Regions from separate parts of the Homo sapiens genome. Here region 2 is linked to region 1. Evidence: fine-mapped QTL for protein levels in blood plasma. A gene starts in region 1. The other region holds a variant in brackets. All regions are shown on one strand. Distances are from middle to middle.

Region 1 (2,899 bases):
ACGCAGCCACCCGGTGACCTTGGACAGAGGCCTGACCTCAGGTGTCTCAGTTTCCTCATTTCTATTGTGAGCCTGTCCACGGCAAGGCTCAATTGCGACCGAGCTTGTGGCGCGCCCAGTGCACAGCCCCACCCGGAAGAAAGCTCCCTCCCGGGTGGATGTGAACATAACCGGCTTGGGGAGGGGGCCCGAGCACGGGAGGGCTGGGATGGGGGTCACCCAGGAGCCCCGCCGCGCGGCCCTCGGGTCGCCGGCCCCTGCGCTGTGACCGCGGCGAGATAAGGTCCCAGGCGCTGCCCTCGCTCCTCGCCGCATCCCCGGCGGCGCCCCCAGCCGGGCGCCCGGCACTGAACGGGTGCGGGGCTGGGCCGGGGCCAGGGCCGGCCCGGGGAAGCGAGTGGGGCGGGGCCGCCGCGCCCGCTCCCCCTCCCCGCCGCCTGCCGTCTTCTCCTCCTCCCGCCGCCCGGGCTCAGAGCGGCGGCAGCAGCGGCCGCGGCGACAGCTCCAGCTCCGGCTCCGGCTCCGGCTCCGGCTCCGGCTCCCGCGCCTGCCCCGCTCGGCCCAGCGCGCCCGGGCTCCGCGCCCCGACCCCGCCGCCGCGCCTGCCGGGGGCCTCGGGCGCCCCCGCCGCCCGCCTCACGCTGAAGTTCCTGGCCGTGCTGCTGGCCGCGGGCATGCTGGCGTTCCTCGGTGCCGTCATCTGCATCATCGCCAGCGTGCCCCTGGCGGCCAGCCCGGCGCGGGCGCTGCCCGGCGGCGCCGACAATGCTTCGGTCGCCTCGGGCGCCGCCGCGTCCCCGGGCCCGCAGCGGAGCCTGAGCGCGCTGCACGGCGCGGGCGGTTCAGCCGGGCCCCCCGCGCTGCCCGGGGCACCCGCGGCCAGCGCGCACCCGCTGCCGCCCGGGCCCCTGTTCAGCCGCTTCCTGTGCACGCCGCTGGCTGCTGCCTGCCCGTCGGGGGCCCAGCAGGGGGACGCGGCGGGCGCTGCGCCGGGCGAGCGCGAAGAGCTGCTGCTGCTGCAGAGCACGGCCGAGCAGCTGCGCCAGACGGCGCTGCAGCAGGAGGCGCGCATCCGCGCCGACCAGGACACCATCCGTGAGCTCACCGGCAAGCTGGGCCGCTGCGAGAGCGGCCTGCCGCGCGGCCTCCAGGGCGCCGGGCCCCGCCGCGACACCATGGCCGACGGGCCCTGGGACTCGCCTGCGCTCATTCTGGAGCTGGAGGACGCCGTGCGCGCCCTGCGGGACCGCATCGACCGCCTGGAGGTGAGCGCCGCGCGCCGTCGGGGGAGCCGCCCGGGTGGTGTGAGGGGCCGCCCGGCCGCGGTCGTCCGGCGGTCCCCGAGCCTCCGGTCTCCCGTCTGTGTTCCGGGGACGATCGCGCCTTCCTCGCTGGCGAGGCGGGGGGATTTCGATAGGGAACGCGGGCAGGCGTCTGGCACGGTGACTGAGGCACAGAGGGCGCGCCAGAAAGATTCGCTCCCCACCCTTTTCCGTCTCCAGGCACCTCTCTGAGCCTCAGTTTCTGTGTCTGTAAAATAGGTATAACAGTGTCCACTTGTAGTGGAAATTGAATCAAATGTAGGTGTGTGAAAATGCTTGGCACGTACTAGGACCTCATTAAATGTCCCTTTCATTTCCTTCTTCCGGACACCCCCAAATCAGCCCAGCTCCACGCTCACACTTTATGGCCAGGAGATGGATGCGCTGTCCAAAGGACTTGGGGTCCTCCCCTCATTACACAGAGCCGGGAACAGAGTGCCCTATAAGACAAACCTGGGTGCCCCTCACCACCTCCCTACCCTGAATCTCCCACTCTGGCTCAGACTATGACCCAAACCGCAGGAGCTCAGGTGCCAGGCGCCCAGCCTCACACACCTGGAAGCCCACAGCTCTTGGGTGGGGGCTGAATGGAGAACAGGGCCCCCCGAGCTCCTCCTCCTCCACTCACTTTTCCAGGCTTTCCTGACTCAGGCTTGGGGTCAGACACAAGGGGTCCAGCATGGGGGAACCCACTCTTGGCTCTCATGTGACCCTGGGCCAGTCATTTCCCCCCTGGAGTCCCATGGCCACCTTCCTCCCTGTAAGAATGAATTTGGGGCTCCCAGAAGTGCAAGGCAGACAGACTGGGCAGGACAAACATCCGGGACACATTCACTACCCCAGCCATGGCCTGACTTCCAGACCACAAGGAAGGGGGTTAAGCAACAAAATCAGATCTGTGGAAGGAAGAGAGAGAAAGAGGCCAAAGCCCGCGCTGCCCCCTCTGCTACCTCCACCCAGGTGGAGTGCAGCAGGCAAGTTGGAGGGAGGAGAGAGGCGGGGAGTAAATGCAGGGACCCCTTACTCCCGGGGCTTTTTAAGTTAAATCCTGGGCAAGCAGCACTGGTGATGCCCACTCACAAGGCTGAGGATGTCGTGGTCTGACAGCCCTCCAGGACGTCTGTACTGGTGTCAGCACCCTCCCCACAGGGTGTCAGAGTGCAGCCAGTCAGCCATTGCAGCCAACCCCTCACCTTACGGATGAGAAAACTCAGCTCAGAAACGTCCTAAGAGAGGTGGCAGAGGCAGGAGAAAAGCCGGGCCCATACCCACCTCTTCCCCGACTCCAGCTCTGGGGGATTTCTAGGATGAGAGAACCAAGAGCAGGAAAATAATCAGGAAAAAGGTGAAAGTATGCAATGAAGGGAAGTCTTAGTTTTCTCGCCTGTAAAATGGGGATAGTAATAGCACCTACCTCACTGGGATATTAGGAGGATTAAGTACTTTATATGAAAGGCCAAGAATAGTGCCTGGCACACAGGTATGTTCAGTCAATTTGAGTGATGGCTATTTTTATCATTAAGCTATAATATTACTCATTTTTAAAATACAGCCAAAACTCAAAATAGGAACAAACA
Region 2 (2,899 bases), 18 kb after region 1:
TAAAGAGAAGGGAGGTGGCCGGGCGCACTGGCTCATGCCTGTAATCCCAGCACTTTGGGAGGCCGAGGCGGGCGGATCACGAGGTCAGGAGATTGAGACCATCCTGGCTAACATGGTGAAACCCCATCTCTACTAAAAATACAAAAAAATTAGCCGGGTGTGGTGGTGGGCACCTGTAGTCCCAGCTACTCGGGAGGCTGAGGCAGGAGAATGGCCAGAACCCGAGAGGCAGAGCTTGCAGTGAGCTAAGATCGCACCACTGCACTCCAGCCTGGGCGACAGAGGAAGACTCTGTGTCAAAAAAAAAAAAAAAAAAAAGAGAGAGAGAGAAGGGAGGTGCACAGACCTACCTGGGGATGGAGGGAGGAAGGGAGTGCTTGTGGCCTCCTCGTTCCTTCTACTTCCCTGGAGCCAGCCCCTCGGGCCCTCCCCGCTATGGAGAGTAGAAAGGTGTTGTGCTCAGGCTCTGGGACCCAAATGCTGGTTTGAGTCTTGGTTCTGCATCTTCACCATTGTGTGACCTCAGACTAGTCTTCTACTTGCCCTGTGCCTCAGTTTGCTTATCTCTAAAGCAGGAATGATAAGAACTCTTGTCTCTTAGGGTTGTAGTGAGAAGTGGCTTAAATGCATGTAGAGGGCTTTGAGCAGATCCTAGCGTTTAGCAGACATCAATAACTGTGAGCTATTTTTATTATACTGGGCACTGTGCTAATAAGCAGTTTACTCACATTATTACCCTTGACCTTCCCAACAGCACTGGGAAGTAGGTACCCTCATTATCCCCATTTTGCAGATGGAGAAACTGAGGCTCAGAGAGGGGAAGTAATGCACCCTGGCCACACAGCTGCTGGGGTGTGATGTGATTCAGGGTCTTGGGCTCCGGAAACCACCTTTTAACCCCTCCCCTGTTCTGCCCTTGGGCCACCCATCTTCCTCATGCCCAGGCCTCCCTCCCCGATGCCCCTCCTTCAGCCTGGCTGGAAGGCAGGACAAGGACAAGGCAGGGAGAATGATGTGGCAGGAGCATGGTAATTGAGGGGAGAGGAAGGGGAGCATCTCATCACTGTCATCCACTCCTAAAGCTCCTCCCCAACCTGCCACATTGTTTTGGGCCTTGCAGGCATGGTGGTCTATTGAGACCCCCCTGGAAATGCAGATACCACATATCGTACCCACCTGTGACCAGCCCACAACACATAAAGCCACTAGGAGTGATTGATACCCATCAGACCCAGCTTAGCAGAAGGTGCATTTCATGGCATTCTGGAGGGGGAGGAGGAGGAGGGAGGAGATGAGTCCAGGGACCAGTGACTTTCCCTTGTGGCCCAATAAACCCTACGACCACCGGGGTGGCTGGACTACATCTAGATCCTGCTGCCTTGTGCCCTTCATCACCCCCTGGCTGCCGTCCTTGGCCTGGCCCAAGTTCAGCACTCAGTTCTCATTAGAAGGAATTCAGCACCCTG[G/C]ACAGGGCATTGGGCAGCCCTGTTCTGGGACGCTCTAGAGTCCTTTTGAGAGCCAGCCTAACAGACTGCTCACTGTTCCCTTTTTATTCCAGCCTCTAAGCCTTTACTCCTTCTGTGCCCACCACTTGTTTTGCCTAGCAATGGAATGGTGGATCCATTGTCCTTCCAGACGGGTTTTGACGTGGCTTCTGTTCCCATATCCCCTCTACCTCTGGGCCTCGCAGCCTCTGTACCTCCCATATGCCCTCCGTTATTTTGTCTTATAGCATTGCCCCAAAGTCCTTCCCCTCCTGCAGACTCAGCTCATTTAAGGCGTGGACCAGCTCCACATCCCCAGGATCCACAACAAGGCCAGGCACCACGTAGGCCTCAGAGAATGTTACATTAAATTGTGATCTCAGGCTGGGTAAGGTGGCTCTTGCCTGTAATCCCAGCACTCTGAGAGGCTGAGGTGGGTGGATCATCTGAGGTCAGGAGTTCAAGACCAGGCTGGCCAATATGGTGAAATCCCGCCGTTTCTACTAAAAATACAAAAAAAAAAAAAAAAAAATAGCTGGGCATGGTGGTGCACGCCTGTAATCCCAGCTACTTGGGAGGCTGAGGGAGGAGAATTGCTTGAACCAGGAGATGGAGGCTGTGGTGAGCTGAGATCACACCACTGCACTCTATCCTGGGCAACATAGTGAAATTCCATCTCAAAAAAAAAAATGTGACCTCAGGAAACTTACCAGATGAGGAAGCCCTTTGGGAGCACCAAATCCACAGACAGCAAGCACCTTTCATCTTACAGGCCAGCTCTAACCCATCAGCAGTGGCTTTCCAGAGCACTGTGCTGAGGGATCTGAGCTAAATCGAGGCTCGTGATTGATTGGCTATGTCTGCCCTGGGTGGAGGAAGATTTGCCATCCCTTGCAGACTTGTCATCCCTTGTCTGACCTCACTTTACAGATAAGGAAACTGAGGCCCAGGGAGGAAGGAGCAGCCTCCCCAGATCACACAGGGGTTGGTGGCAGAGCCAGGGCCAGATGCTGGAGCCTGGCCTCTGAGTCCAAGGCTCATTCTATCCCTGCCAGTACTTCTTGAGCCCTAGCTGTGTGCTGAGTGCTGTGTGAGGTGTTCAGGGGAAGTTGGGATTATGAGACATCCCTCTCTCCCCAAGTGACCTTAATAGGCCTGTTGGAGAGTGAGTGAACTACCTTGTGACAACTGAAAACCAAAACCAGAGAGTCCCTTGTGATCTGGTTTGGTCTTTGAGGAAAGAGGAGACAGGAGTCAGGGAAAGACACTGGGCAGGAGGATGGAGAGGGTCAGGCCTGGGGTCGGGCCCTGGAAGGATGGACATGGGTCTCCCCAGCCCCACCCCACTGCCTCAGCCATGGGCCTTGGGCCTTGGGGCACCTCTGACCTGGGGTTGGGGGACCTGTGTCCAGGTG

Which allele goes with the higher level. Alleles are on the strand shown, and positions count from the first base shown. The strength of an association depends on the size of the effect and on how common the allele is.
As copies of C replace G in region 2, the plasma level of the protein whose gene starts at base 472 in region 1 goes up (weak association).

What was found. PIP is the chance, under the fine-mapping model, that this variant and not a neighbour inherited with it causes the effect. Protein levels are from antibody-based Olink assays in UK Biobank. Linkage for the fine-mapping came from a reference panel and not from the study's own genotypes, which makes the PIPs less certain.
Region 2: its variant is fine-mapped to the plasma level of the NPTXR protein (UK Biobank, PIP above 0.99).

The regions. Positions count from the first base shown.
Region 1 is chr22:38,841,601-38,844,499 of GRCh38, reverse strand. NPTXR (neuronal pentraxin receptor) reads left to right here and starts at 472. Exons shown (of 5, transcript NM_014293.4): 1 at 472-1,265. The coding sequence starts at 642. RefSeq lists a silencer at 884-953.
Region 2 is chr22:38,823,260-38,826,158 of GRCh38, reverse strand. It overlaps NPTXR (neuronal pentraxin receptor), which reads left to right. Exons shown (of 5, transcript NM_014293.4): 4 at 2,897-2,899. Among named protein-coding and RNA genes, the nearest start is that of NPTXR, 19 kb to the left of the region's middle. The variant G/C (reference allele first, on the strand shown) is at 1,467.